4 linked regions of the Homo sapiens genome follow. The protein of the gene in region 3 interacts with the protein of the main gene of each other region in a biochemical or structural test. Each region holds a gene or a part of one and is shown on either strand. Other genes may lie near its edges. The genes, in order: LMO2, SIN3A, TAL1 and ELSPBP1.

What was found.
Region 1: the proteins of TAL1 (region 3) and LMO2 form a complex in vitro, tested with the Homo sapiens proteins (2 studies listed by BioGRID).
Region 2: the proteins of TAL1 (region 3) and SIN3A form a complex in vitro, tested with the Homo sapiens proteins (2 studies listed by BioGRID).
Region 4: the proteins of TAL1 (region 3) and ELSPBP1 form a complex in vitro, tested with the Homo sapiens proteins (one study listed by BioGRID).

Annotation. Positions count from the first base shown.
Region 1 is NC_000011.10:33,881,519-33,889,222, forward strand, and holds part of LMO2 (rhombotin-2), read right to left. Parts: intron 759-7,704; exon of another isoform or gene 666-758; intron 422-665; exon of another isoform or gene 370-421; 5' UTR 306-369; exon of another isoform or gene 301-305; intron 1-300. UniProt on the Homo sapiens protein: Acts with TAL1/SCL to regulate red blood cell development. Also acts with LDB1 to maintain erythroid precursors in an immature state.
Region 2 is NC_000015.10:75,406,131-75,413,834, forward strand, and holds part of SIN3A (paired amphipathic helix protein Sin3a), read right to left. Parts: intron 6,916-7,704; coding exon 6,633-6,915; intron 5,614-6,632; coding exon 5,362-5,613; intron 4,157-5,361; coding exon 4,004-4,156; intron 3,862-4,003; coding exon 3,706-3,861; intron 1,015-3,705; coding exon 925-1,014; intron 1-924. UniProt on the Homo sapiens protein: Acts as a transcriptional repressor. Corepressor for REST. Interacts with MXI1 to repress MYC responsive genes and antagonize MYC oncogenic activities. Also interacts with MXD1-MAX heterodimers to repress transcription by tethering SIN3A to DNA.
Region 3 is NC_000001.11:47,229,030-47,237,611, reverse strand, and holds the start of TAL1 (T-cell acute lymphocytic leukemia protein 1), read left to right. Parts: upstream 1-5,386; 5' UTR 5,387-5,445; intron 5,446-5,722; exon of another isoform or gene 5,723-5,764; intron 5,765-5,896; exon of another isoform or gene 5,897-5,955; intron 5,956-6,349; exon of another isoform or gene 6,350-6,565; intron 6,566-6,570; exon of another isoform or gene 6,571-6,702; intron 6,703-7,840; exon of another isoform or gene 7,841-7,958; intron 7,959-8,260; 5' UTR 8,261-8,416; intron 8,417-8,582. UniProt on the Homo sapiens protein: Implicated in the genesis of hemopoietic malignancies. It may play an important role in hemopoietic differentiation. Serves as a positive regulator of erythroid differentiation.
Region 4 is NC_000019.10:47,997,399-48,005,102, reverse strand, and holds part of ELSPBP1 (epididymal sperm-binding protein 1 precursor), read right to left. Parts: intron 1-7,704.

The sequences.
Region 1 (7,704 bases), on a different chromosome or scaffold from region 3:
GGCTCTGAGGCATCTTTTTAACCCTGAAAACGTCCACTTGGAGGGCAAGAGCCAAATCTAAAAAATTATTATACACACTGTCTCTCAGCTCAAATATGTATGCTCTCACTCCAAGTTCAGATCACAATTTACAATTCCGCATTTTGTAATTGTTAAGTGCAGTCTGGCTTCCCCAAAGACCTCAAGCTCATTCTGCCCAGGATTAAATCCAAGAGCCTTCTTAGCCCAGTTTCTGGCATGCAGGAAGCATACAATAATGGAAGAAATGAATGAATGAACAAATGAATTAATGAAACCCACCTTACCTGCCTCTCCACTAGCTACTGCAAGTTCAGGTTGAAAAATATCTTCTTTTCAGAGCAGTTGTTACTGAAAGAAAATGAGAGGAACCCTCTGGTTTAGACAGCTAGAAGTAGAAAGGAGAAAGAGAGAGAAAAAAAATTCTTATCTTCAGTTAGAGAAATGTTTCCACAGGTCCTTGATAAACTAGGGAAAAAGACCCCCAGGGCTTTCTGATAGCAGGCGGGTGTCCTTGATAGCGTGACGGGTGGGGCAGGCGGAACTTTGGCATCAGGGCGCAGGGATGGATTCTAACGGTTTCTTTGCTGGTTGAAGAGGCTGCTTCCTGCCGACTTCTTTTTTTTTTCTTCTTATTCTTCACTTACCAGCCCAGCTTGTGAATGTGAAGGAGTTGTCCCTTTTCCAAATGAACAGGACTGGTGTATCAGGTGGCCTTGCCATTGTATGCACCTGCCGGTCTGAGAAAGCAAGTGTTCTGTCTGTATCTGCAACTGTTTGTGTCTCACGCTTTGCAAATCTCTTATCCCTCTGAGTCTCAGAAATCCCCCATGAGTGAAAAAGGGCAGGTAGCCTGGTGCCCATTTGATAGGAGAGGAAATTAGGCCAAAGCCCTTTCAAATCTCAAACATGCCTAAACTAGAGAACTGGATGACCCTTGTTCCTTAGACTCGGGCATTCTTGCTCACAGGAATGTCTTTTGAAAATTTATTTTTCAAGAGGAAGAGCTTCATGAGGCAAAAGCCAACACGCAGACACCGTATTACCTAGCGGCATTTATTGGATTTGTCTCTTGAGTGATTCAAACAAAAGATTACGGTTATAAATAGATAGACCTAATTGTGGCAAACAATGCCTACCTTTTATTGAGCACTTATTATGTGCCAGGCATTTTAAATACTTGATCTTATTCAATCCTGATAAGAAACCTCCTGAGATCAGTAATATTATTCCAATTTTACAGAGGAGGAAAGTGAGAGAGAAATTTCAATAACTTTCCCAGGGTCATACAGCTGCATAAATGTAGGAGACGGAATTTAGACCTAGGTCTTCTGACTATGCCCTCACCTCATTCACTATGCCAGTGTTTCCCAAATTTCCTACGTTTGCATGTTAGGAATACATATTCTTAGGCCCACACCCAATCTCCCAGATCAAGGGAGAAACCTCAGAAGGCCTTTCCCTGGATACCTGATCTAAAAAATAGCCTCCTCCCCAGGCACTAACACACCGTTATTTAATTTTCATCATTATATTTGTCACTACTTGATATTTTCTTATTTGTGTATTTGCATATTGTCTTTCTTCTCCACTAAGGGATGAGTTCCATAAGTGCAGATACAAGATGTCCAACGTTTTAACTTCTAGAAACTGACCAAGGGGGATGGTACCTACGAAGTACTCAAAACATATTTATTAGATAAGTTAGTAGACACTGTCCAAAGTATTGTGTTAAGAAGAATTGTGAGTCTGGACCCAGGTTCTGGAGAGAAGATGAGAACACTGGTGTGTGTCCTGAGGTTTCAGGATGGGAAAGTGTTGGCACATAGGCCATGTATTTGCCATCCCAGAGAAAGAAACTCAGTCTCCCCAAAATTAAGAGGAAGATGACACAGAAAGTCAGTAGGAGAGCCAGGTAAAATGCAATCACTTCTTTCCAAGACCTTTATCTCTTACTTGGAAGTCAAAATGAACACATTTGTAATGGAGAAGAAATCCATGGTCAACAGTGAGGTGCTGATCAAAACTGCAATCAGATTGGATTAGGGAGAGATCAGAGTGGATGGACATCAGCATGGAAGGCTTTCTGGAGGAAGCAGAAAATCGAGTTGCCCCTTGATGAGCGATTATCTGGAAACTTCCTTTGTTGTCAGGCTTGTACTTTGAGCTATACATAGAGTGTTTTTTAGGCCCTTGCAACACCCTAATGAAGTAAGTATTGTAATCATAATTTTATGGGTGATGAAACTGAGTCACAGAAAGCCTACAGAACTTGCTCCAGCTCACAGGGCTACTAAGGACTGAGTAGGAATTAACAGCCGGTGATTTCAATAATGGTTTTCTTAACAGAGCAGGTGTGTCTGGTAGGAAACAGCCCAAGTAAGGGTCTGGGTATGGGGTCAGTTGGAGGAGCTGGAGGTGCAGTTCACAGGTAGTAATGAAGTCAGCTGGTTGCAGAATTGGACCATAACAATATTCCAGTGAAAGGAACCAGATCTGCTGTTCTCTCCCATTTAAAAGCCTTGGATGCCAAAACGCACCACACCTGACCCGGTGATCACAGGCAATTCAAAGGTGTATTACTTATGCAGGCATAGGCAGCGAGGGAAGCCACTGGTTGAGGGCCCCACTGAGAAGAGGACTCCCTGACTTCTGGGGAGGAGAAAGAGCCTGGTGCTGGGGACCTACGTAGATATAGGACAGGGGCCCACCTGTTGAATAATGCCGAGAGGAGGTAGTGGGGGAAGATTAATTTTGAGTGATCTGCTCCATTGGGGGTCAGGCTGGGGGTGGTCAATCAAAAAGAGTAAGGGTGAGTTTTCTTGCATATGATTACTAGGTGCTGCAGAGGTGAGTGGGGCTGAGTGGGTGGTGAGGGGTGGGGTGCCCTGATGGTTTCTGCCCCAGTGGGTGTTAACTATTTGGACAAATGACATTTTGCTGGGAGCAACTTTTTGCACTCAACTCAATTTCTTCAAAATTCACTCCCTAACATTTGGTTCACCATCCAAAGAGCTAATATACTTGTATATAGGCTGTACCAATTTTACATAGCCAGTGCAGTATGTAAGTCTACTTGTGGGCAGGAGGGCTCCTAAAACAAGGTCACCCCAGGCTACAGGGGACATCCAAGTCCTAGGGAGTTCAGAGTACCACATGTAGAATTTGGTTTCTGTTTGGTGGTACATCCATTGGGCTATTTGGATTACTTTGCCTTGCAATATTTATCCACGTCCAGCAGGATACACTATGCCCTCTGAGAGCATATACTCCTTCTGGGAAGCTGGCATATCATCTGGAGCTAGTCTCTTATCTGCCACCCTGGCAGTTAGGGGTTTTTGCCCTTCAGTGAAAGCTTCCAGTGCTGCTGTTTTTTGTGTTACGTGGGCTGATAGGACCTCGGATCTTTCTCTGAAGTATCTGCTAGTTTTCCTGGTGTGATCATATTGTAAGACCTTAGTCCCACTCTTCTGGCCCCAAGTCATGCTTATACCCAGGACAATGGGTAGGAAGACTGCCCATCACCTCTGACTGGGGACTGTGACCAGCAGGGTTAAATTGCAGAACAGTCAGAAAAATGTGAAGGGGGTTGTCAGACTTAGCAGTGTGCAGGTGAGTTTAGGTATTTGGGACGTCAGGAAGAAGTTATCTAGGAGTGGAACAGGTGAAGCAGGTTCCCTCTGGGGCTTCCAATCTCTTGTGTTCCTTTAATATCTGGGGTGGGCCATGACACTAGTTGTGCTGTGTGGGCCTAGGAAGATACAAGCATAGGCATGTATTTATACATTTGGATAGATGTATGATCTGGACTCATGAGCCGGGGACCAGACTGGATAACATCTGAGCCAACATAGGACAGGGCAAGACCTAGGAGCCTAGACCAGAAGTGTTTGGTGTTGGTGGTTTTGTGGTGCAAATAAGGGAGTGGCCTGCTCATGGGGGCAGATAGGAGGCCCAACATTGCATGAGGTCCAGCCACTGGGATGTGGCTTTATCTCTGTGTACATACAAGTTAGCCCGGAGATAGCCTTAGGCAGTAGAATTGCTTTGGGAGGCCCAGGAAGGGAAGTTCCAGCCACAATGGCAATGAGGTTTATTGTGCCCAATGGGGAGGAAGTGAGAGGAGAGAGTTATAACTTTGGTGGCCTGTGTGGTGGCCACCCTTTTCAGGTATGTGACAAATGCTGATTGAGGGATCCCCCAAGGGAAGCTGTTTGTGCTCCAGCAAGGGGGTCCCTTGGTAGATGATGTGGGTAACTGGTGGGCAGCCTCCAGGATGCAGTGGTTGGCTGGGCTGTGGTCATCACCTGCAATGTGGCCATTGTCTCCCTGGGCTGGTACACCTTTTTTTTTTTTGAGCCAGAGTTTCGCTCTTGTCACCTAGGCTGGAGTGCAATGGCACAATCTTGGCTCATTGCAGCCTCTGCCTCCCAGGTTCAAGCAATTCTCCTGCCTCAGCCTCCCAAGTAGCTGGGATTGCAGGTGCCCACCACCAAGCTTGGCTAATTTTTTTGTATTTTTAGTAGAGACGGGGTTTCACCATGTTGGCCAGGCTCGTCTCAAACTCCTGACTTCAGGTGATCCACCTGCCTTGGCCTCCCAAAGTGCTGGGATTACAGGCATGAGCCACCATGCCCGGCCACAACTCTTAAGTCAGATTTGGGTCATGGAGATATAGGCTGACATCTGGAAGGGTGTCACAAAGATGCACAAAGCAGAAGGGGTGCTTGAGGGCACATTTAGAAGGGGTGCTGGAGGACACCACATGCGCTGGGCTGACAATTGGGCATCATTTCTATGATAAAAGTAGTTTGTAGGGGAGGTGGGACTAAACATACAGGACCACATTCCTTTTTGTTTGTCCTGATGGCTTCTCAGGATGATGTGATATTCCTGGCCCATGGTGTTGTAGAAGAATTGTACATTCCAAACAGATAGGGATGACACTGTGGGTGCAGTATTGCCGAGGTGTCCCAGCGCTGAGTAGGGAAACTGTGTCCCAGGCCACCAGCTATATCAGGCATAGCCAGCTATAAAAAACCTAAAGGTTTCACAATAACATTTTCAGTTTTTAGACTCTGTAATAGCATTTAGGGCTGGCCTTTTATAATGACAGGGGCATCTGTATCCCACAGCTGTGAGTGGCTGTCTGTGCTTTGGCATCCGTGGTGGGGAATAGACAGCCTCAGGCATTGTTATTTCAGAACACGAATGTTGGGGGGCTCCTTTGTCTTGCTCCAAGATCCACATGGTGGTAGGTGTCAGTCCAGGGGCCAATATTCTATCCCCTGTGGAACAAGCTTAACATTAGCCAGCCTTTAAATCCATCACAACTGGTAGATGTGTTAGGGGATGGGAGAGCCTCATTTCCAGGCTGGTAGAAACATGTTGTCAGGGACTTCGCTCTTCCATCCATAGCCAGCAGGTCCCACTTATTATTTGCCATTGGTCTGACACCGATGCCTTGTGAATTGTGGATAGATTGAAAAAAGATATAGGAATGAAGGATCAGAGGAGCAATCCCACATGGGAATCCATGACTTGGAACCTGGGACTCTTGTCAGAACTAGTAAGTGTAAAATGAGGGCATTTTATTATGGATGAGGGGCCCATAGGGGCAAGTATCAAGGGAGATAAGAGCAGTAAGGAAAACTGATTTGGAAACCACAAGCCATTTTGTAGCTTTAAGAGAATATACATCATTGTGGAGTTTGCGGTAGCCTGGTGGGAGAAGTGAGCCAGTGACAGACAGGAATACATGTCCACCATGGTTAGGGCATATTGTGGGGTTGGGGAACCTGAGGGAAGGACTCATTACCGTCAATTTTCCATCATGAGTGTGGTCAGTTTCCTCAGTGATTCTGCTAGGAGTGACATATTGCACCCACCCATACTTCTCCACAGATATTCAATATGTTTGGGATAGCAGTTGATTATGGGTGGGAAACGTAAATGCAGCATCTTATTGTGGAAGGCCTTAGCTGCAAGTCTCCAGGAATGTGGATTTTTTTTTTTTTTTTTTTTTTGAGACAGGGTCTTGCTCTGTTGCTCAGGCTGGAGTGCAGTGGTGATACTGTGGTTCACTGCAGCCTTGACCTTCTGAGTTCAGGTGATCCTCCCACCTCAACCTCCCAAGCAGCTGTGTGTGCCACCACGCTTGGCTAATTTTTGTTTTGTTCTTTTGTTTTGTTTTTTGTTTGTTTGTTTGTTTGCTTTTTGTAGAGATGGGGTTTTGCCATGTTGCTCAGGCTGATCTCAAACTCCTGGGCTCAAGCCATCTGCCCGCCTTGGCCTCCCAAAGTGATGGGATTACAGGTGTGAGCCACTGCACCTAGCCAAGAATGTGGATTTAATGAGCCACTAGTCCATGGAAGACTCTTGAACAGGGGAAGGATGTGAGTGGAGTTGCATTTGGGTTGGGTTGGGGTGGGGAGAGGCTGGAGGTGAGGCTGCTGTGCTAGGAGCTTAACCACCAGTGAAGGGTTGAAGAAAGGAGGTGGGGGCAGGGGGAATGACTGAGTGGGCAATGACAGAGGCACTCACGTGACTGGCCAAGACTTGTCTGCAGGAGACCAGGGAGCTATAGCCAGGCAGCTGCAGGGCCATTGATAGAAGCTGCCATGGCTTGAGCACTTGCTCTATGCATACTCACGCAAGCGCATTCGTATATGATCTCGCTCATCCCTCACACTGAGGTCATTTGTGGGATGCAAATGGCCAGCCTTATGCTTCTGCCCCATCCACACAGGTCAGGGGCCATACTCTGTGCCACTGCCAGGGGGATCCTTTCATAACCTGCATCAGATCATTTCGCTCCTCTGCTTGAAGCTCTCCCAAGGTTTCCTTCTTGCCCAGAGTAAAAAGCCAAAGTCCTATAAGGCCCTGCATATCTGGCTCTAGCCATCTCTGTGTCCCCTTCTCTTACACTCCCTTCCTCCTTCCCTCCCTCTGCTTCATCCACACAGGACCCCTTGTCATTCTTCAAACTCTTGCTTTAGGGCCTTTGCTCTTCTCCTTCTTCCGGGAACATTCTTCCCCAGATGTGAGTTCTTCTTATTAGAAAGGTCTTCCTTCATCACCTGAGTAAGACACTAATAACCCGGGCCAGCGCATTCCATTTTCCCTCACTCTGTGTTATTTTTCTCCCTAGCACATATTGCCATCTGGCATACTATATGTGTACTTGCTTATTTGATTGGTGTCTGTCTCCCCCTCTCAAGTTTGTAAGCCCCTTTCAGGCAAGAGCAATGTTTGTTTTGTTGACGTCTACGTATCCGCAGTGCCTAGAACAGTTCCTGCTGTGTATGAGGCGCCCAGTAAACACTTGCTGAGTGGATGAATGAAGTGTGTATTATCATCCTGATTCAATGAAAGGGAAAACTGAGGCTCAGGAAGGGTACGCAACTTCTCCAGGCAGGACAGCTAGTAGTCGCCAAAGCCAGGGTTCAAGTCTGACTACAAAGCCTGTCCTATTTCCGTTAGGGTAGAATACCCTCGAGGAGTCTTGGATCTTTGTAACTGAGAAAATGGATCTTTAATAAACAGAAATGGGGAAATTGAACAGGTTTGGGTAATAGGGGAAAGATGACAAGGTCATTTGGAGCTCTGCTCTTCTTTGAGTGCAGTGGGACCTCAGAGGCTAGGGGTAGCCATTTGAGCATCTCCTGTGTACCAGGCACTGTACTG
Region 2 (7,704 bases), on a different chromosome or scaffold from region 3:
GATTCCTACCAGTGAGAAGCCCAACAGGTGCCAGCTACCCTGATGAAAGTTTCCTGCTAATCATCAAGTTGACTCCGAGGAGCAAATCACACTTAAGTTTATGTGGCCAAACTAAGGCACCACACAACATCATTTATGCCAATAATCTCAACTCTCGTTGCTCATTAGAATCAGCTGGGTAGCTTTGAAAACATGCAAGTAAATTAGAATTCCCCTGAATGCTATGTATGTGTGTACTACAAATAACTATCACAGCAATAAGATTACAAGTCATCGGCCAGGCGCGGTGGCTCACGCCTGTAATCCCAGCACTTTGGGAGGCCGAGGCGGGCGGATCACGAGGTCAGGAGATCGAGACCATCCTGGCTAACACGGTGAAACCCCGTCTCTACTAAAAATACAAAAAATTAGCCGGGCGAGGTGGTGGGCGCCTGTAGTCCTAGCTACTCGGGAGGCTGAGGCAGGAGAATGGCGTGAACCCCAGGAGGCGGAGCCTGCAGTGAGCCGAGATTGCGCCACTGCACTCCAGCCTGGGCGACAGCGAGACTCCGTCTCAAAAAAAAAAAGATTACAAGTCATCTTAAATCCTCAAAAATTGGTACAGGCACTGGTACTGCCTGCCACACAGACCTGGATATCTACAATGGGAGCTCCAAACATCTTTCAAGAGAAACATAATACATTTTCTAAAAATCTGTCTTCTGCCCCAAACTGCTTCATAAAACCAAAGCAAACAATGCTACCATTTTTCTAGCTATGCTAATAGTACTAGCAGACTCAAAGGACTCACAACTGGGAAACTATGTTAAAAAACAGAAAGTCCTAATTAGCCTGACACCTTTAAAACGAAACCTTCCAGGGGGATAAGATGATTTTCTTTTGGCATTAACAGGCACTATCAAATCTAACTCATCCATTACTCACCTTATCAAAAAATAACGATTCTGTTCCACCACCATGTTTGCTGGCATCTGCCATAGAAGAATCCTTCAGATTGAGCAGTTTGGGTTTCTTCTGCAAAAGAAAGATACAAACATGTGAGATTCAACGAGTGGTTTTCTCTGAATTTTATTTTTGTCTGTATTCAATGGTTTCATCACTGAAACCACTGCTGATTAATAATTTGAAACAAATGAGAGAACTCTAACCAACTCACTCCATACCCTCTAAGATTTCAACTCATATTTTCTATTTCAGTTTGCCTATTAAGTTTCTTTCTACAACAGAGGTTCAAAGATCATTCTACCCCCAAAATATTTTCTCCAGAAATGATCATGACATTACTGTGACAAACTTTTAGAATATCCTTACTTTTTCTAGGGGCCCAAAGTAACTTCATGTAGAATCTAATGCCACTGTTTTGTTCTCCTACCAGCTGAGGGAGAAAAGGCTGTTTGTAAAAAGAGCTCACAAATTGACAGAAATCAATCTTTAACCCTGAATAATATTTCAATTAAAAATTTACTTAAAAAGCATAATTTGCTGGGCATGGTGACTCATGCCTGTAATCCCAGCACTTTGGGAGGCCAAGGTGGGCAGATCATGAGGTCAAGAGATTGAGACCATCCTGGCCAACATGGTGAAACCCCGTCTCTACTAAAAATACAAAAAAATTAGCTGGGCGTGGTAGTGTGCGCCTATGGTCCCAGCTACTCAGGAGGCTGAGACAGAAGAATCGCTTGAACCCAGGAGGTGGAGGCTGCAGTGAGCCGAGATCACGCCACTGCACTCCAGCCTGGGCAACAGAGTGAGACTCCATCTCAAAAAAAAAAAAAAAAAAAAAAAAAAAAAGGCACGCCAGCAATATCCACTCAGACTAATTTAATATTGTTCTTCTAAAGGGAACCAACAGGCCATGATATAATCCTGTCAGGCAAGAAGTTACTTTTAAAATCCACCACTTACTCTCTATGAAGAAATGCACAAACTTTGTGAGAAGTAGCACATTTACCTTGGCTATCTCAGAGTATACTTTCTTAAGAGCCGCAGCCTCTGCTTACACTGCCTATGGAGAAAGTAGGCGGAGAATTTTAAGCCCCCACTATATTCTTGCCACCTGTAGGTAATCAAGAGTGGGCGGACGTAAATCCAAGCATGGAGTGTATCTACTGAGCTGATTCTTGCTACCCATATAACTAATTCTCTTTATTGAAATGAAGAAATAGAAACCATTATTATGTTCAACTTGATTTCAAAAGATTTCAAAAGAAGAAACCATGACAAACACTAATGAAAAGGATACTTCAAAAGTGTCAGTAACACCTAGTACGTCAGACCTTGTAGTCAGTCAATCACTATTCATCAGCCACCTCTTACTATTAGAAATTCCCAAACTTTTGTCATTATTTAATTCTGCAGACATATCTGTCTCTTCTATATTACATACTGCTTTGAAATTCACTGAAGAATTAAACATTCAATACATACAACTAGCCCTCTCCCTATCATAGCTGTGTTACATCAAAGAAGGGAGCAAGCTAAGTTTTCTGCAGGCAGACCATCAGTGTTAACTATAACAAAAAACATCATGTAATGGATTACTAAGAGGAGTTTAAGACTTCCCTCTGCTACAGCCCAAAGGTCCTGCCTTGGAGATTAAGATGATACACATAAGATCTGGTAACCCAACAAAGAACTTTGAGCAGGACAGGGTTCTAGACCAGAGATCTCAAAAAACACATGCACTCTACTCACAAGAGGACCTCAGAGACCACTTATTTCTGAAATAATTCTCAAGCTCAAGAATGTTCTTTCTTAACACAAGGCAGATTTAAAGCATCAAAGAAGAAGGGGCCAGGCGCGGTGGCTCACGCCTGTAATTCCAGCACTTTGGGAGGCCGAGGTGGGTGGATCACCTGAGGTCAGGAGTTCAAGACCAGCCTGGCCAACATGGCGAAACCCCATCTCTACTAAAAATGCAAAAATTAGCTGGGCGTGGTGGCACACGCCTGTAGTCCCAGTTACTCAGGAGGCTGCGGCAGGATAATTGCTTGAACCCGGGAGGCAGAGGTTGTAGTGAGCTGAGATCACACCACTGCACTCCAGCCTGGGCGACAGAGCAAGACTCCATCTCAAAAAAAAAAGAAGGGAAAAAAATTTCAAGTATTGGAAATTCTTAGTAGCAACCAAAACATTAAAGAAATGACAGCTCATTGCAAAGGAGAGATAATAAAGAACTCAGAAAAGTACAGTAATCCAAGCAATCAATGTTATTCTAATACTCTTTTGCAAAGCCAGATAAACTCTGCACTGAGTTTCTGTGACACAATACTAACTTCCTCCAAATATCTAGGACCCAACCGTTAACACACTTAAGAACACATGACTGCCGGGCACAGGTAATCCCAGCACTTTGGGAGGCCGAGGCGGGCAGATCATGAGGTCAGGAGATCGAGACCATCCTGGCTAACACGGTGAAACCCCGTCTCCACTAAAAAAAAAAAAAAATCAGCCCGGTATGGTGGCATGCGCCTGTAGTCCCAGCTACTCGGGAGGGCGAGACAGGAGAATCGCTTGAACCCGGGAGGCAGAGGTTGCAGTGAGCCGAGATCGTGCCACTGCACTCCAGCTTGGGCGACAGAGCGAGACTCGGTCTCAAAAAAACAAAAAAAAACAACAACAACAAAACACATGACCACCTCTAGAGTACCTCTCCATTAGAAATACTTGTGAGTGTCAAAATGAGCAGCTGCTGCCCATTCTCACCTTAACTGGAGGGGTGGTTCCTGTAGGATGTCTGCGGATCTGGCAGCCATTCTGGCTGGGCCTCTGCGGCTTGTTGTTCAGTTGGGGCTTCTTGACAGTGCCTCCATGATCATTTCTCACAGAATCAACCTTCTCAGCAGTTGTTTTGCTTAAAAGCTGATTAAGACACATGAATGAGATTAATGCTCTTATCAAAGCAAACAAATATCATCTAGGAAAAGTCCCCTTCTGAGCACAGTTTTCCAACTCATCTAAGATAATAATAGTAAATAGTGTAATTCTTATTAAAAAAACATACCACGGAGCTGTTGGCATCTGGTAGGAATTGTCCAAACTCTGACAACAAATCTTCCTGGTTTTTAAAGAGACGAGCAACCTGGGCATACACCTCCTGCTCTGTCAATGCTGGAGTGTAGTTTCCTCCAGCTTCCTTGGCATTTCTCTGCTCTTTCTGAGGAATTGCAAATGAAAAGAGATCATTTGGGCTACTGTTTTGAGTCACTCATCTTTGCACGCTTTCTGGAATCACTGTTATCTATTTAGGCTGCATGTAAGAAGAAAGTCTATGTTCTTAGCACCCGTTCTGACCACAGACTTTCAAGTTGAGAAAAAAAAAAAGTTGAAGATGGTGGATGACAATTCCTTTCAAAACTAGGGTAGTAAATATTTTTGAGACGGAGTTTCACTCTTGTTGCTCAGGCTGGAGTGCACTTGTCTCGGCCTCCCAAAGTACTGGGATTACAGGCGTGAGACACCATGCCCGGCCTAGGGCAATAAATATTAATGCCCAGGGGACCACTACCAACTGACAAAACCTTAGAAATTTCTCCTCCTCCTACTGTACATTAACTAGACTATATAAATCACCATCTAACTGTCCCAGATAAAACTGAGTTTCATTTCATGGGACAGTGACTAACAATCCTGACTGAGGCCGGGCACGGTGGCTCATGCCTGCAATCCCAGCACTTTGGGAGGCCATGGCGGGTGGATCACCTGAGACCAGCCTGGCCAACATGTTGAAACCCCGTCTCTACTAAAAATACAAGAAATCACTTGAACCCGGGAGGTAGAGGCTGCAGTGAGCCGACACTGCACTATTGCACTCCAGCCTAGGCAAAAAGAGCAAAACTCTGTCTCAAAAAAAAAAAAAAAAATCCTGACTGAATGTTGCAGGGCAATCAAGTCAGGCAAATAAAACTGGCTTTATAGCATGGGGGCGGTGGCTCACGCCTGCAATCCCAGCACTTTGGGAGGCCAAGGTGGGCAGATCACAAGGTCAGGAGTTCGAGACCAGCCTAGCCAACATAGTGAAATCCCATTTCTACTAACAATACAAAAAATTAGCTGGGCGTGGTGGGCGGAGCCTGTAATCCCAGCTACTAGGGAGGCTAAGGCAGGAGTATCACTTGAGCCCGGGAGGCGGAGACTGCAGTGAGCTGAGATCGTGCCACTACACTCCAGCCTGGGTGACAGTGCAAGACTCCGTCTCGAAAAACAAACAAACAAACAAACTGGCTTTAAAAACATGCATGATAGTTTCTAACTGGTTAATTTCCAGTATGAATTAATGGACACAATAATGGTTACTTGTTATTGGACTAGATGCCCTAAGAGGGTGACCTGGTTAAGACAGGCTGAATGGGCACTCCTTACCTGATATGTGTGCAAAATCTCCAGGAATGCTTTGTAGATGTCTGGTTGGCCCTGAAATCTGTTCTTGATCTTATTAACATAGTTGATGGCATGATTAAACTCCACAGGTTGATTGTTCTGCAAGGATGGGGCCGTTCCCAACGAGATTGTCACTGGTGTGTGAGGCTGGACCGGCGGAGAACGTGGGGATGCATACGGTGGAAGTGGGGGAGTCTGCTGACTGGCCGGAGTATGTGCTTGCAGTTGGGAGGGCTAGAAAGAAAAGAAATCTTTATTCTCTTCAGATGCATAGATGAGTTGATACAAGGAAAGTTCAAACTAAAGAGAAACAAGGTGTCAACGTATATCCTTTATTTACTCACTCAGGCCAGGTCATTTTAGTCCAACACAAATCATACTGGGCAGCAGTGGGAGTTGTAGGCGGTTCAAACATGCTGATACAAATATTTCAGTCTCACATTTTCTAAATAAAACCTTAAAACTGGAGCCATCTCCAATTACAGGGAAGAATTTTTCATATGCAATGTTTTAGCTTAGTAGCTCAACAAGTACACATAGAAAAAATCTCATTCTACATAGCCTTTTGATGTCAACAACAAGACAACTGTTGCAGTAGCTCCACATAAAAAAGTCTTCTACGCCAACTCTGTCCTGTAGAACTGAGATGATGGAAATGTCCTTTATTTGCACTGTCTTATACATAGCCACCAGCCACATGAGGTTACTGAGCACTTGAAAGCTAGTGCAAATGAAAAACTGAATTTAATTTAAATAGTCCTATGTGGCTAGTGGCTACTGTGTCAGACAGTGTGGTTCTAGACCAAGAACACCCCATCTTCATCACCATCACTATCACTATTCATTAGATCTTCTACTTAGCTTGATATAATCTAGTTAGTGAAATAACTTTCATAAAATAACCATGTGGGCAGCAGCACAATTTGACCAGGATAAGACGATGGTTTCTATCTGTGCTGTCAACTACTACTACACAAAGTCACCACCTGTTGGGATGTTCATGGTTTTATAAGCAGAAACTGTAAAAAGAAAGACCTTGAAAGTTGTTGCTGTGTTGATTTAAATAGATACCTAAGTAAGTGATGTGTAAATGTGAACCATGTCATAGTGAAGTTTTCATACAGCATTTTTCTATGACGAAATCTTTGTAACTTTGTTTCTCAGTATCTAAGTCTTATATAAAGGGGAAACATCAAAGGAAGGTGCTCTCTAGGGATGCATTCATATTGATGCAATATTTTCCAAGTGCTCACCTTGCTGACTTTGGCAGGTGGGGGCTGAGGAGCTGGCTGGGCAGGAGCTGGGGCTGACTGGGCTGAAGGCTGGGAAGGATGTTGGGGTGGTGGTTGAGGCTGTGGCTGGATGCCATGGGTGGGAATCTGATGAACCTGGCCAGGAGTTGTCACATTCACCATGTCATTGGTTTGCACCTCAATTTTGTAGCCAGGGGGCAAGAAGGTGTTGAATCCCATTATCAGATCGGGGTGGCCTTTGAATAGCTGGGACACACGACTAATCACTCCTGGGGTGTCGATGCTGATAAAAAACAAAAAGAAAAGTGATAAACTGTAAGCTTAACAAACACCCTGTTAAGAAAAAATTTCATGTTTTTTTTTCTTTTGAGACGGAGTCTCACTCTGTTGCCCAGGCTGGACTGCAATGGTGCAATCTTGGGGTCTTGGCTCACTGCAACCTCCACCTCCCGAGTTCAAGTGATTCTCCTGCCTCAGCCTCCCAAGTAGCTGGGATTACAGGCATGCGCCACCATACCCGGCTAATTTTTGTATTTTTAGGACAGGTGGGGTTTCACCATGTTGGCCAGGCTGGTCTCGAACTCCTGACCTCAGGTGATCCGCCCACCTTGGCCTCCCAAAGTGCTGGGATTACAGGCATGAGCCACCTCACTCAAAATTTCACTTTCTACTAGGTTTTCTCTAAACAGGAAAACAGATCATCTACGCATTTTAAAATTAACACACGAACTCTGAAATTCCAAAGCCATTTAGTTTTAGACTCAAAGATACTTGGCCACAATTTGTTTTTTTTTTTTTTGAGACAGAGTCTCATTCTGTTGCCCAGGCTGGAGTGCAGTAGCACAATCTCGGCACACTGCAGCCTCCGCCTCCTGGGTTCAAGCAATTCTCCTGCCTCAGCCTCCCAAGTAGCTGGGATTACAGGCACCCGCCACCATGCCCGGCTAATTTTTGGAATGGTCAAAATTTTTAACAGAATATATGTTCATTGTAATAATTCTACCAAGCAGATACTCAGATGATATATATAAAGCTACATATCCCAAACAAGATTCACTCTTTGATATACCAG
Region 3 (8,582 bases):
GTCTCAGTGAGCATCAACGACTATTTGCTAGCCAGAGAACTGGTGGCTATGCACATGTTCTGTCCTTTTCTAACAGCTCTGGGAATAAAATCATTGATGGCAGAGCTATTGGGGTTCTCTGCTCATGAGGACAGTTAAGTTTAGACACTATCTCTTCTGTAAGTCTGGAAAGCAACTTCGGTCTTCTGTATGCTTTGGTCTTCCGCATGGGTTAGGGAAAGGGAAATGGCTTTGAAACATTAAAAAGCACAGGCCGGGGGCGGTGGCTCATGCCTGTAATCCCAGCACTTTGGGAGGCTGAGATCGGCAGATCACCTGAGGTCAGGAGTTTGAGACCAGCCTGGCTAACATGGTGAAACTTCATCTCTATTAAAAATACAAAAAAGGCCGGGTGTGGTGGCTCATGCCTGTAATCCCAGCACTTTGGAAGGCCAAGGCGGGCGGATCACCTGAAGTCAGGAGTTCGAGACCAGCCTGGCCAACATGGTAAAACCCTGTCTCTACTAAAAATATAAGTAATTAGCTGGGCGTGGTGATGCATGCCTGTAGTCCCAGCTTCTTGGGAGGCTGAGGCACAAGAATTGCTTGAACTCATGAGGCAGAGGTTGTGGTGAGCCAAAATTGTGCCATTGCACTCCAGCCTGGGTGACAGAGGGAGACTCTGTCTCAAAAAAAAAAAAAAAAAAAAATTAGCTGGGTGTGGCGGCATGCACCTGTAGTCCCAGCTACTCAGGAGGCTGAGGCAGGAGAATTGCTTGAACCCAGGAGGCAGAGGTTGCAGTGAGCCGAGATCACACCATTGTATTCCAGCCTGGGAGACAGAGTGAAACTCTGTCTCAAAAAAAAAAAAAAGCACGGTGTTTTCTTAACACAATTTTACTTTGGCCTTTGCTACAGATGGGGGTTGTAAACTAGAGAAGTGGTTCTCAAATTTTGTGTGTGTGTCAGAAATCATCAGGAAGGCTTGTGAAAACAAATTGCTGGGCCTCACCCTCAGAGTAGTAGTAGTAGGCCTGGGGTGAGGCCTGAGAATTTGCTTTTCTAACAGGTTCCTCGGTGATGCTGACCATCCACTTTGAGAGCCACTGAGAGTGAAGTTCCTTCCATCCCTGAGAATTCTGACAGCAGCGTTGGGGTTTGGAAGCACAGACGTGACTCCCAAGCTCGGAATTCTTGAGGCCTGCTTACTGATGGGGTAGGGGTTCTTCCAGGGCAAGAGACAGAGGCAAAAATGGAGAGAATAGTCCTTTGAAAGTGGAAGAGGGAAATAATGACATTTCCTCAAATTGAAATTTTCCTCATTAAAAATAATCCTTATATAAACAGTATTATGTATGGAAAATGAGCACCTCTCTTCTGCAAATAAGGAAAGTGAACCTCAGAGATTAAGTAATTTGCCTGGTATCATACAGCTGGCAACTAGGGGAGCAGGGATAGGAGCTCAGGTCTGCCTGACCATTGTGCTTGCTTTGCTGCTTTCGAAGCACTGTGGCCTGAAGCCAGACTGCCCTAGGTGTGAATTTTGCCTCCACCACTTACCTGCTGGGTGTTCTCTGCAAGTTGCTCAACCTCTCTGTGCTACCTACAAAATGGAGTAGTCCCTACTTCATTAGGTTCTTGCAAGGATTAACTGAATTAATACTTACAAAGTGCCTAGGACAGTACTTGTCACACAGTAACTGCAGTGTAGATTTGTTAAAAATAAACTCGGCTGCTCATCAGAGTGCATGCATGGCATCTTTCCGGAGAAGAAGCTCGGGGGAGAAGCTCAGAGATAGTCCAGTACTCAGAGAGGGCAGGCAGAAACACTTGAAAAATGGTAAGAGGCTTGGCTTTGGGGTTTAGGGAGAACCCAACCTTTGGTGGTGGGGAACAACGGCCTCAGGGCCAGAGCCTAGCTAGCCTGTTCTTGTCCCCTGCTCTTGCTGCCCCAGTTCCAGACTCCAGACTTACCAGTCTGGGTCTCAACCTCCCCTCCCTCCTCGCCACCCCCACCCCAGGCGCTCCGGGTTTCCTGCCCGACTGGGGCCTCCGTTTGGGGCGGGTGGAGGAGGGGTGGCATTTCCTGGCTGGCCCCGGCCTGTCACTCTCTCGTGGACGCTCGGACAACTCGCTGACCGACAGGCACCAGATGCTATTTCAGGCAGCGCCCCGCTTAGCGCACAGCTTCCGTTTTTCCACTGACCATCGGAAACAGGGGAGGGGGCAGATGTAGACGTCATGAGACCCCAGCCCCTGGCAGGGCTTTGGTGGATGAGGTCGGGAGTGGCTGCCTGACTGTCAGAATCTGGAGCTTGGCAGAGAACAAATGTGTGGAATTGGAGGGTTGGTGAACGTCACCTCCTCGCTCCACAGACAGAGGCCTGGGCACACCCTCTGCCACAGGGCTGAGAAACGCCTTTCCACCTGTCCATATTCCTTCACCACAGGAAAGGACACTTTCCTTGGAGGTGCTGGCTGGGGACATTTAATGCCCTGTAAAATAATCCAACAGTCTGCAGGTGTCTCAAAGGCATCTAAACTTAAGGAGTTCAAAACCAAATATATAAGCCCTCCCCATGTCCCCTCAGCCTCCAGGTTCCCCATCTCCAGGAATAACCACCACTAGCTCTGCAGGACAGCCAGAAACCCAGGGGTTTTCCTGGATTCCTTCCTCTCCCTCATCCCCCCAAACCCAATTCTTTTTTTGTTTGTTTGTTTGAGACAGAGTCTCGCTCTGTCGCCAGGCTGGAGTGCAGTGTCGCGATCTCGGCTCACTGCAACCTCTGCCTCCTGGGTTCAGGTGATTCTCCTGCCTCAGCCTCCTGAGTAGCTGAGACTACAGGCGTGCGCTGCCACACCCAGCTAATTTTTGTATTTTTAGTGGAGACAGGGTTTCATCATGTTGGCCAGGATGGTCTCGATCTCTTGACCTCGTGACCCGCCTGCCTGGGCCTCCCAAAGTGCTGGGATTAGAGGCATGAGCCACCATGCCTGGCCCAAATCCAATTATTATAAACCCAGTTTTATACCCCAAATACATGTCATCTTCACTTGCCTCTTGTCATCTCTTCTGCCAGCACAGTGGTCCAAGCTCTAATCCGCTTCCCCTAACCACTGCATTGGCTCCACAACTGGCCTCCCAGAGTCCTTCCCCCTCCACACTTCATCCAAAGAACTTTCTAGAAATGCAAATCTTATTCTATACAAGGTACCACCCCCACCTTCAAACCAAACAAACAAAAAAATGTCAAAAAATCTTTTAACTTGTCCACAAGCATGCTCCAGCCATACTGGACACTTTTCTATTCTTTTCACGAACCTACCACCCTTCTGTTCTAGCCCTTGGTCCAGCTGTTTCCTCAGCCCACCTGGAAGGTTCTGGATACTGATGCTTCTCCCCACCCCCCTTCTTCGCACCCCCAAATTTCACTCTTAGATCTCAGTCCAGGCCTCATTTTCTCAGAGAAGCAGTCCCCACCTGGGCTCTCCCATATGGGAATGGCTAGCCTGTTTTTACAGTGGCTCAGAGACATGAAATCACTTCTCTAAGGGTCCCACAGCCCAGGAATGGCAGAGTTGTGTTTCAGACTCAGAATTATATGACTCTCATTTTCTAATAAGTGATGGAGCCAAGCAAAGGCCTTATGGTAGGGGGGAACTAGACTTTTTCTTAGGATGTGGGATTCTGTGAGAGTTATCTGTATCCCCATGACAGCCTGACTTCCTTCAGAGAGCACAGGAGGAACAGAGGGGACAGGCGGCACTGAATTAACTGTATCTTCTCAGAGGGTCAACCTGATGACCAAGGAGAAGCCAGATCCCAGACTGGGGCCATGCTCTCTGCTCAGTCTTTGACTGGGACTCAGTTTGTTACCAGAGTAGGGGTTTTCCCCCAGTTCTCAGGCTCCAAAAAAAGCTCAAAAGCAGAGACACTAGAAGGACAAATCAGCCTGGCATGGAAAGTAGAGTTGTGGACTGGGAATTGGACACCAAAGTTTGGGTCCTGGCTTTTCCTTTGGGTTACTGTAAGTTTTGGCTAAGTCACATCTCTCTGTGTCTTAATTTCTTTCTCTATGATGATAACCAGAACTCCCATGCAAGTGCATATGATGTTTTCCTGGGCTGTGGACTGAGTGACGTTCCATACATTATTATCCTCACCACCACCTTTTAAAGGTCATATAAGTTAGTTCTCATAACTTTGTGACGTCGACATTATCTCCCCATTTTACAAATGAGAAAACTGAGGTTCAGAGATCAGTGACTAAAATTCGAACATGTGTTCTTTCCACTCCACCATGAAAGAATGAACCCAGAGACCCTCCGTGGGCTGAGCGCATCATCCAGCTGGCACTGAACTCAGATTTCTACCCCACAGTAAAGACCCTGGTCTCTGCAATGAGTTGAGCCCAGGTCCCTTTCCCTGGCTAGGTTTTGGCTGCCCCTCTTCATCAGCTGAGCCGCAGAGAAGACTCCGTGTCAAATTTCCTTCCAAGGCAGACTCCACCAAGCACTAGCTATGTATCATTCGAAAAGTTACTTTGACTTTCTGTGCCTCAGTTTTCTCTTCTGTAAATTAAGGATCCAGCTTCTCAGGACTGTTTGTGAAGAGTAGATTAGTATTTGCAGAATGCCTAGAATAGTGTTACAGTCGCTAGATTAAACTTTTTTTTTTTTTTTAAATACCATGTGGGGAGCAGTGTTCCTGGGCTCTGGGCTCAGCCTGAAACCTAGCAGAATAGGCATTTTATGTCCCTATTGACAGGGGTTCTGCCAGGCCGCCGTAGAGCCCATGGATTTGAGTTACCGGCTCTATTTTAGAAGGGGGTGAAGAGGTAGGGAAGGGCTGGGGAGCTTTCTGGGATAGGGAGACTGCCCATTGAAATCTGGGTGTCTGGGACACTGGAGGAAGAATAAGAAAGAAGCCCTGGGAGGTGACGATTTTGGTATCATGGTGGTCTTCAGAGGTAGGGACAGAGTGCTGGGGTGAGAGTCGCTGAAGAAAGGTGTCTGAAAGGTTAAGGGACTGAGGTTGTGGGAAGCTGGGGTTCCTGAGAGGCCTTGGGATTAGAGATGGGGGCTGGATCTGCTGGGTCCTAGACAGCGCGTCCAACGCTCCCCGCAGCGCGTTCCGGAGCCGGTCCTAGCGCCGCTCAACCAGTCCCCACTCCCTCCGGTGAAATTGCCAAATTAAAATGAATCATTTGGCCCATAATGGCCGAGGCGCTTATCGGGGGCGGGCGGACCCGCGGCAGTGCCTTATCTCTGCGGCGCACACGGCCCCGGCGCGCCTCGGCCCATGCTAACGAGGCCTGGAACGTGAGTGGGATTACAGCGCGTCGGTGGAGGGGCCGGGCGGGCGCGGGGCGGGCGGGGGAGCGGGGGCCGCGGGAGGGGCCGGGCCGCCGCCGCTCAGGACCGGGCCTCAAAATGGCCACACGCGTACCCCCGTAGCGGAAAAACGTGAGCATTCTGGCCTTTTTCTAGGGGAAAAGCAACCCGCGGCCTCCCACCGAATTCTTCATCAATTTCCTCCTCTTTTTCCCCACGTCCGCAAAAGAGGTCTTCGCTCCCTTTCCCTCGGTTCCTTTCGATGGCCGGGGGGGGCGGTGGGGGGGCATTTTCCACGGACGCCCCCGCCCCGGCTGCCGCCGCCCCTCCCGCCTCGGAGACTCTCTTCCTTCCTTCCCCCTTTTCCTTACGCAATATACAGAAATGCGCGAGGCTGTGGTTGGTTTTCATTTCTTCTTCGTGGTTGTGTGCATGCGGTGGGATTGTGAGAGTGCGTTCATGAGAACTGTGGGCGGCGTTGGCTGCTTCTAAGTGTGGTCTTCTTGGCGACAGGCTCTGTGTCCGAGTGTGGTGTGCCTGCGCGGTTGGGGTGTGTAGATGTGGACCCTTCGAGGCCCTTCTGCGTTTTCTTCGTTGCGTACGATTGTGCTCCGTTGGTGTTCTCAGCAGGGATCTGATTCTGTGTGTGGGGGTGTGTGGCCCCTGCGACTGTGTTTGGGTGGTGTCGTCGTTATGTCGGGCGTGTGTGATCCCGACTGTGCTGGATTGTGTGTCCGTGAGCCGCTGCGTTTGACTGATTTCGTTGTGTCCTGTTGGGCAGTGTGCGGGGCTGACCAAGTCGGCTTCTGGGGCAGTGCTAGGTGGTGTTTGTTTGCTGCCCTTCTGTGGGGCTGGACCCTGTGTGGTCCTGTCCGCACTGAGTTGTATGCCTGTGTGCCTGTGTCCTTTAGAGGTGCGTTTGCAAATCGCTGGGGGCGGGAGTGGGGGGAGGGCGAGCGAGAGATCGAGGCGCTGGTGGGGGCGGCGGCATGGGGGCGGGGAGCGGGATTTCACATTTTATTCCAAATTATGATGTATTCGGGAGCCAGTTGTTGGCTTGGGTGGGCGGACAGCGCCCGGTCGGCGGCTGCTCTGCCCGGAGGCCCGCCTGTGCCTAGGTGTTTGAGGGGTTCGTTGGTGAGTGGGAGGCTCCTCCAGGCTTGAAGCTGAGCAGCGCTCGCCGAGGCCGGCGCCTTCGAGCCGGTAGCTGCGGGCTTCGGTTCCCGCTGCACTCCGGCTTCATCCATTTCTGGTCAGTTTCGTGGGTGCGGCCGCCGGGCTCCAAGGGAGAGGCCCCGAAAGGACAATGGGCACATTCACCAGGCCTCGAGCCTCGGGTGGGGACATTCGGGATCACCTCCTGGGAAGATTTTCCCGCCCCCTCTTCGGGTGAGCGACGTTGCCGCTTGGGTCTGATACCCGTCGCATCCGAGACCGAGGCCGAATCCGGGCTCTGGGAGGGACCGGGTTAGTGGGGCCCTAGCTCGGGTTGAAAGAATTTTGTTTTGTCAATTATTGTAATTGCTAATGCCATCACCATCACAATCGTCATCATTAACATCTATTTTAATTAAAATAATCATCCCAGAGCGCAGCAGTTTGTCCCTTTTGGCTCCTTTGGCGGGAGAACAAAGCAGCGGGTTTTTTTCCGCTACAGCCGTTTTCTAAGTTGCTGGGTTTGAGGTAGGAAGAGAAAATGGAGAGAGGCACGGACACAGAGACTTGGTCATAAGGCAAACATTAACCCCCAGCGAACACGCAACATTAACCCCCCGCGAACACGCCGGGAATGGATGGATTCCCCTCTTCTTTCCTCCCCTCCCCTCTTTTGGATTAGAAGAGGAGAAAGAAAATCTTCCGCATTGTATTGCAATCCAGGGAAGAATTATTCCTATATGTCCACCAAAGCCGCGGCAAATAGAAGGAGGCCTTCGCAGTTAATCCAAGACTTCGATGTGTGATCATAAGCCTGACGATTTAGGCAAAACAAATTAAACAAAATCCACTAGGAAAAAATAAAAGCAAGCTCAATCCTGCTACATCCTTGAAAGTAGTGTCGGGTTTGTTTTTACCTCCTTTCCTTTTACCTTGTTTATTGCTGTAACAAATCATTAGAATTCTCCCTTACTCTGTCTAAACCCCGAAAAATCGAAAATCATTTCGTAGGGGTGGTGGAGGGGAAGGTGGGGGACTTTTCCCCTTTGTTTCTTTCTTTCCCCCTTTGTTGGTCTTTATTTCCTTTTCTTTTTCTGTCTCTCTCTTCCTCTCTCTTTCTTCTTTCTCTTAATCAGTAGGGAGACGAGAAAGGACCTGAACAGATCAGATATCTCTCTCCAAGCCCCCTTCCCAACTCCATTTCTGTAGGAAAGTACAGCCCCTGGAATTGGGTTCTGGTTTCGCTTTGGGCTGGAGGTGGGTGGATGGGGGTCAGAGAGAGAATGAGGTGGGGGGGACTTCAAGGTTCTGTCCCACCGACCAGAGTCTGAAGACTATTCGCCTTTCCCAACACGGACCTCCGCCCATCCAGGCCCGGGACTATCCCTTCGCGGTGTAGCGGCAGCCGGAGACCTGGCTGAGGAGGCAACCGCGTAGACACCTCCCTGCTTAGAAAACAAACACTGAACCAGACCGATCCCAGTTGGAGGGTTCGAAAATGTTCCAGACAGCCTGTCGGGAGGGGTTGTTGTTGCTGTTGGACTAAATAGCTATTCCTGATTGGTCATGTATAGGGTTTTTTAAGGCGGGTGGGGGGAGGAGGGGGTAGAGGAAAGGCTCCAAACACCTGCAGGTTGGGGGCGGAAAGCTGTTTGCGATTCCCTGGACTGGTTGGTCGGGGACAGGAGGTAATTCCCAGCCATTGACCCCCATTTCTCTCTCTCCCTCCCTCTTGCCCTGCCTCTTTCTCTCCACCCCTATCTTTCCTGGAAACTCGCTTTGGGCGCGGCAGATCGCCCAGGACCACACCGCAGCGTAACTGCAGGCCTCTCAGCGAAAAAGGGGGAAAGCAAAGACCCGGGTGTGCATCCTCTTCCTCGGCTTCCGCCCCTTTCCGGCGGAGTGGAGATCCTATTCAGAGGGGCCGGTCTCTCTAAATATGCCCCAGGTGAGTTTTCAGGGGAATGGTGCCGGTGGAAACGGTGTCTAGGAAGGCCTTGTGTTCCGGCCTGGGGTGAGGAAGGCTCAGGACAGAGGAGAGCCCATTCTCAGATTGGGGGTGGGGGGAGGGGAGGACCAGCCAGAGCTTGGAATCGGGATCTGACTGCTGTAGC
Region 4 (7,704 bases), on a different chromosome or scaffold from region 3:
TCCCAAGTGGCTGGGACTACAGGCACGCATCACCACACCCAGCTAATTTTTAAACTATTATTATTGTTTGTAGAGACGAGGTCTTGCTATGTTGCCCAGGCTGGTCTCAAACTCCTGAGCCCAAGCCATCCTCCTGCGTAGCCTCCTAAGCACTGGGATTACAGGCAAGAGCCACTGTGCCCAGTATGGGCCCTTTCCTGATGCATGCTTTATGCATCCACTCAGGAATGAGTATTTATTGAGCATTTAAAAGATGTGGGGCCAGGGCTACACGATGAGTATGCAGCAGTGGGTAAAGCAGGCATAGGCCCTGCCTTCGTGGGGCTGAGAGTCAACCAAGGAGACAGATATGAAGCGAAGAAACCAGAAACAAATACAACTCTTCGCTGTGATCATTGCTGTGGACGAGTCTCAGGAACAACTAGGACAAGGTCACTTTTGATTGAGAGGTGAGGGGAGGGTGCTCTGAGAAATGACAGGTAAGCTGACACCTGGAGGAACAGATGGAGGAGGGAGACGTGAGAGGAGCTGGAGGTATGGGGGTGGGGGATACATCCAGGCAGGAGAAGCCGACGTGGAAACTGCCTGAGATGGAAAAAGCTAGATGTGCTCAAGGAGCAAGTGGGACCCGCATGGCTAAGGCCCAGGCTGGGCACAGTGGCTCATGCCTATAATCCCAGTGTTTTGGGAGGCTGAGCAGGAGGATGGCTTAAGCTTAGGAGTTTGAGACCAGCCTGGGCCACACAGTGACACCTCGTCTCTACAACAAGTGAGGAGGAGCAAGGCCACAGAGATGCATGGTGAGATGGATGGGACCGGACCCTGTAGAGCCTCCCTCAGATTCTAAATGCAACCAGAAGGCCAGGTGTGGTGGCTCATGCCTGTAATCCCAGCACCTTGGGAGGCCGAGGCGGGCAGATCATCTGAGGTCAGGAGTTCATGACCAGCCTGGTCAACATGGTAAAACCTCATCTCTACTAAAAGTACAAAAATTCCCTCCACATGATGGTGCGTGCCTGTAATTCCAGCTACTCGGGAGGCTGAGCCAGGAAAATCGCTTGAACCCAGGAGGCAGAGGTTGCTGTGAGCCGAGATCATACCACTGCACTCCAGCCTGGGCAACAGAGGAAGACTGTCTCAAAAGAATAGAATAGAATAGAATAGAATAGAATAGAATAGAATAGAATAGAATAGAATAGAATAGAATAGAATAGAAGCAACCAGAAGCCACGGGAGGGGTTAAAGTGAGGAGGAGTGGGCCGGACACGGTAGCTCATGCCTATAATTCCAGCACTTTGGGAGGATGAGGTGGGCAGATCGTCTGAGGTCAGGTGTTCGAGACCAGCCTGGCCAACATGGTGAAACTCCATCTCTACTAAAAATACAAAAAAAAAAAAAATTAGCTGGGCGTGGTAGCAGGTGCCTGTAGTCCCAGCTACTCAGGAGGCTGAGGAAGGAGAATCACTTGAACCCAGGAGGCGGAGGTTGCAGTGAGCCGAGATCGTGCCACTGCACTCCAGCCTGGGTGACAGAGCAAGACTCCATCAAAAAAAAAAAAAAAAAGAGCAGGGGTGGCATTTATTCATTCAAAATCCTCCATCACCTTTAGAATACAATCCCTAGTCCATACTGTGCCTTCCCTCAAACTCATTTCTTATCTTCCTTCCCCTCCCTCGATCTGCCTTTTAGTTGTTTCCTGCAGAAGCCACCTCAAGGCCTTTGCACTCGCTCTTCTCTTTGCCTGGGATGATCCCTTGACCCCAGCTATTTGCATGGCTTGCTTCTTTGTGCAATAAAGAGTTCTGTGCAAATTCGAAGAATTGGTAGCAACTGATGGTCTGGAAGGTTTATGACTCTGCACAGACCAAGTTATGGATATTCATAGAAAATATTTTAGGGGCCATTCAAAATAATTATTCAACTGTAAAACAAGCCCTAATAGCCAGACACCCATGTCTCGTCTGGAACATCCAGGTGAGGACCAAGTTATGCTTTGGGCACTGGCAGGTTCAGATGCTTGGAGAACCCTCTGTCCTGAGCCCCGGGGTGGTTGGGACCAGCATCCTGCCACCGCTGCTGTTTCTTGGCTGGTCGGAAAAAGGGTTGCTGTGGCTATGGAGTCAAACCACAGGAAAATATGGGGATAGTTTTTCCAATCATCAAATGAGGGAGAATAAACTCCACCTTGGGATCTTATACATGCAGCAGATGCTGGAAAGCACTGTGTAAATGTCAGAGGGGGCATACAAGCCAGATATTTTCATTACTATTTATGAAGACAGCATACAAGCCAGAATTTTTGTTTGTTTTTGAGATGAAGTCTTGCTCTGCACCCCAAGCTGGAGTGCAGTGGCACGATCTTAGCTCACTGCAACCTCCGCCTCCCCGGTTCAAGCAATTCTCTTGCCTCGGCCTCCTGAGTCACTGGGATTACAGGCACGAGCCATCACGCTCAGCTATTTTTTTGTCTTTTTAGTAGAGACACGGTTTCACCGTGTTGGCCAGGTTGGTTTTGAACTCCTGACCCCAAGTGATCTGCTTACCTGGGCCTCCCAAAGTGCTGGGATTACAGGCATGAGCCACTGCGCCCGGCCCAAGCGAGATGTTTTAATTACTATTTATGGAGATGGGGGAGAGACAAATTTTGCCACCTCCTCTAAACCCTTGACTACCTGCAGTGTCATGCTTATATTCCTGCCTGGCCCAAAACCCCAATTCCTACACCTTAATTGGTTCATTAACCTCAAGCTTTCATTTTGACCCTTCTCCTCAAGATTCAAATGAATAATTTTTGGCTTAGATGCTAAGATCCAGACAGGCAGAAGGTTATAATGCCAGAAAGAGCCTGCCCTGGAGCCCAACCACCTGGGTTTCCATGCTTTGCCTCTTACTACCTTTGTGACCCCAACAAAGTACTGAGTTTCCTGGGTCTCAGTCCTCATCCGCACAGTGGAAGGGATGGTGATCACTGTTGCTGCTACAGAATGTTAGTGTCGTTCATAGACGCTTGGTGGGTAGAATAATACCCACCCAACACAAATCTGTCCACGTCCTAATTCCTAGAGTCCACGAATATGCTAGGTTGCATGGCACAGTGGATTTTGCGGGCCAGTCATGGTAACTCATAATTGTCATCCCAGCACTTCAGGAAGCTGACGCAGGAGGATCACTCAAGCCCAGGAGTTTGAGATCAGCCTGGGCAACATAGTGAGACCTCGTATCTACAAAAAATCTTAAAATTAAAAAAAAACAGCCAGCATGGTGGCACATGCCTGCAGTCCTAGCTATTCGAGAGGCTGAGGTGGGAGGACTGGTTGAGCCCAGGAGGTCGAGATCAGCCTAGGTAACACAGTGAGACCCCTATCTACAAACAATCTTAAAAAAAAAAAGAAAGAAAACTAGCATGGTGGCACATGCCTGTAGTCCTGTCTACTCAAGAGGCTGAGGCAGGAGGATCACTTGCACCCAGGGTTTTGAGGCTGCAGTGAGCTATGATCCAGCCTGGGTGACAGAGCCAGACCCTGTCTCAAAAAAAGGAGTGTGGAAGACTTTGCAGATGTCATAAAGCTAAGGATCTTGAGATGGGAAGATGATCCGGGATTCCCCAGATGGACCCAATGTCATCACAAGGGCCCTTATAAAAGAGAGGTGGTGGGATGCCGAGGCGGGTGGATCACAAGGATCATGAGGTCAGGAGATTGAGACCATGCTGGCCAACATGGTGAAACCACGTCTCTACTACAAAAAAAAAAAAAATTAGCTGGGTGTGGTGTAATCCCAGCTACTCAGCTGTAATCCCAGCTACTCAGGAGGCTGAGGCAGGAGAATCTCTTGAACCAGGGAGTTAGAGGTTGCAGTGAGCCAAGATTGCACCACCACACTCCAGCCTGTCAACAGAGCGAGACTCTGTGTCAAAAAAAAAAAAAACAGAGAGAGAGGCAGGAGAGTCAGAAAACCAGGTGTGACAACAGAAAGCAGAGGTTAGAGTTATGCCAGGAAGAGGCCACGAGCCAAAGAATGCAGGCGACCTTTAGAAGCTGGAAGAAGCCAGGAAGCGGATTCTTCCCTACAGCCTCCAGAAGGAATGCAGCCTGGCTGGTACCCTGATCTTAGCCCCAGTGAGACTGACTCACAGAACTGTAAGAGAACAAATGTGTGTCAAGTCGGTTAGGTGTGTGGGGATTTGTTACAGCCACTGCAGAAAACTAATGCACACACAGGGGGCTGAAAACCCTGCCTGCCACATAAAACGTGCTTTGTAAATATTAATCGTTATCATTTTCATTATCTCTGTCCCATTTGAATCAGCCATCCTGGAACAGGTACGGAGCAAAGGTGTCTAACCTTAGGCTCCCTCTCAAGCCAGCTGTGTGGCTCCATGGACACACGCACAGCTCGGAGTCCTCATCTCCACAATGGAGAAATACGTAAGTGGTTGTGGCTTCGGAAAAGGGTAGCCTGTATACGAATTTCTGCTCATCCGTGTGACCTTCAGAGTGTTATGGAATGTATTTGACTCTCAGCTTTCTTTTCTATATATGAGACAACTGAAATCTATCCCGTAGGACTGTTTAATAATGAAATGAATGTAATCCCGGCACTTTGGGAGGCCGAGGAGGGCGAATCACAAGGTCATGAGTTAGAGACCAGCTTGACCAACATAGTGAAACCACGTCTCTACTAAAAATACAAAAATTAGCTGGGCGTGGTGGCACGCACTTGTAATCCCAGCTACTCAGGAGACTGAGGCAGGAGAATTGCTTGAACCCAGGAGGCAGAGGTTGCACTGAGCCAAGATCGTGCCAGTCTTGGCTCACTGCATTACAGCCTGGGCAGAGTGAGACTCCATCTATGGGGGATGGGGGAGGGGGCAGGATTTTTGGGGGGCGGCCGGGGTGGGGGAAGAATGAAATGATACAATGTAAGCAGAGTTCTTGGCACATGCTGAGTGCTCAACAAATAATCATGGTAAACATAGGCTGGGCGTGCGGGCTCAGGCCTGTAATCCCAGCACTTTGGGAGGCCAAGGTGGGAGGATCACTTGTGTTCAGGAGTTCAAGACCAGCTTGTGCAACGTAGTGAGACCCCCTCCTTCTCTACAAAATATTAAAAATTAGTTGAGCAAGATGGTGCACACCTGTAGTCCCAGCTACTCAGGAGGCTGAGGGGGAAGGATCACTTGAGCCCAGGATATTGAGGCTGCAGTGAGCTATGATTGCACCACTGCACTCCAGCCTGAATGACAGAGCGAGACCCCATTTCCTAAAAAAAAAAAAAAAATCACGTATGTGATAAATATTTGTTGTGTTCCTCCTACTATGTGGAGTTGTCGGTAGACTGGACAGGTGAAATTCCTTCTTGCATGAGGCTAATATTTTACTAGGGTGGGAAAGACAAAATACAAATGAGGTTTTCTGACCAGGGTGGTGGCTCACGCCTGTAATCCCAGCACTTTGGGAGGCCGAGGTGGGTGGATCACTTGAGGCCAGGAGTTCAAGACCAGCCTGGCCAACATGTTGAACCCCATCTCTACTAAAAATACAAAAATTAGCCAGGCGTGGTGACACATGCCTGTAATCCCAACTATTCCATAGGCTAAGGCACCAGAATTGTTTGAAGCCAGGAAGTGGAGGTTGCTGTGAGCCGAGATCACACCACTGCATTCCAGCCTGGGTGGCAGAGCGAGACTCTTTCTCAAAAAAAAAAAAAAAAAAAGAAATGAGGCTTTCAGTATGGGGTGGTGACAAGTTCCTGGAAATAGATAATGGTGATGATGGTGCAACATTGTGAATGTGCTTGTCGCCACTAAATTGTGCACTTTAAAATAGTTAAAATCATAATCTTATGTGTATTCTACCACAGTAACCAAAACCAAAATCATTTCAGAATATGAAAAGTGCAATGAAAAAAAATAATAAACAGGGGAATGTAAACAATCATGCCTGACAGATGTCTCCTTTGGTGGTCAGGGAAGGCCTCTCTGAGCAGGTGATGTTTGAACCAAAACCTAGAGTCAGCCACACACAGTGTGAGGAACAAGCATTCCAGGCACAGGGATCAGTGAGGGCAAAGCTGCTGATGTGGGAAACAATGTGACATGTTCTGACGCACAGAAGGGAGGGCCACATGGCTGGACCCTTCATTTTTCCCCTTAGGGTGGGCCTCCCGCATGCGCAGTGCCTCCTTTAGGCTTGGGAAGTGAGCATGCGCGGTGTGTTTACTGGACTTGTACACAAGCTCGTCTGAGACTTTCTTCCCTTTCCAGTGAAATGTCCCCCAAAAGGTTGGACTCTGCATTTTTTTTTTTTTTTTTTTTGAGACGGAGTCTGGCTCTGTCACCCAGGCTGGAATGCAGTGGCGCGATCTCGGCTCACTGCAAGCTCCGCCTCCCGGGTCCACGCCATTCTCCTGCCTCAGCCTCCCGCGTAGCTGGGACTACAGGCGCCCACCACCACGCTCGGCTGATTTTTTTGTATTTTTAGTAAAGACGGGGTTTCACTGTGTTAGCCAGGATGGTCTCGATCTCCTGACCTCGTGATCCGCCCGCCTCGGCCTCCCAAAGTGCTGGGATTACAGGCGTGAGCCACCGCGCCCCGGACTCTGCCATTTTGTCTCTTAATGCGCATGCCCGGGCTCATTAGCCCAATCCCTGAGATTGATTGATTGATTGATTGATTTTTTTTCTTTTTTTTGAGATGGAGTCTCACTCTGTCACTCAGGCTAGAGTGTAGTGGCACGATCTAAGCTCACTGCAACCTCTGTCCCCCGGTTCAAGCGATTCTCCTGCCTCAGCCTCCCGAGTAGCTGGTATTACAGGCGCCTGCCACTGCACCCGGCTAATTTTTGTATTTTTAGTAGAGACGGGGTTTCACCATCTTGGCCAGGCTGATCTTGAACTCCAGACCTCATGATCCACACACCTCAGCCCCCCTAAGTGCTGGGATTACAGGATTGAGCTACCGCGCCCAGGCCATCCTTGAGATTTTACTGGAAGCTGCTGACTACCAATTTTGGAGTAAGTGCAGAGGAACGAAAAGATGGTGACACTAGCAAACCTAGGTCAGAGCCTTGTAGTTCTCAGCAAGACACTGCATCTGTGTTCCCCATGCACATACATGTACAGAGTGTTTTCCTGAGCGGGCATGTGAGAAGCCACTGATATCAATCACCTCTGGAAGTGGGAACCAGGGGTAAATAGGAGACTTCTTTCCAATTAAGTTTTTATCACAGATGTGTGACTTATGTCTTTAAAAACAATTTAATTATGTATATACCTAGAAGAGAAGAGTTGCAATATTCCCAACACAAAGAAATGATAAATGTTGAAAGTAATGGATATCCTAAATACCCTGATTTGATCATTACTGTCTGCATGTATCAAAATATCACATCAGTGGCTCACACCTGTAATCCCAGCACTTTGGGAGGCTGAGGTGGGAGGATCACTTGAGACCAGGAATTTGAGACCAGCCTGGACAACAGAGTGGGACACCATGTCTATTAAATAAATAAATAAGGAAAAGAAAAAAAATCACGCGTACCTCAATAAATATATACAATTGTTGTGTATCAATAAAACATTTTAGAAACAGTAATTATACATGTATATGCACATACATAATGTGTATATACATATACGTGCACATGCCTGTATACATTATAGATGTGTATATATGTATACAGGCATGTGTAATATACACACAT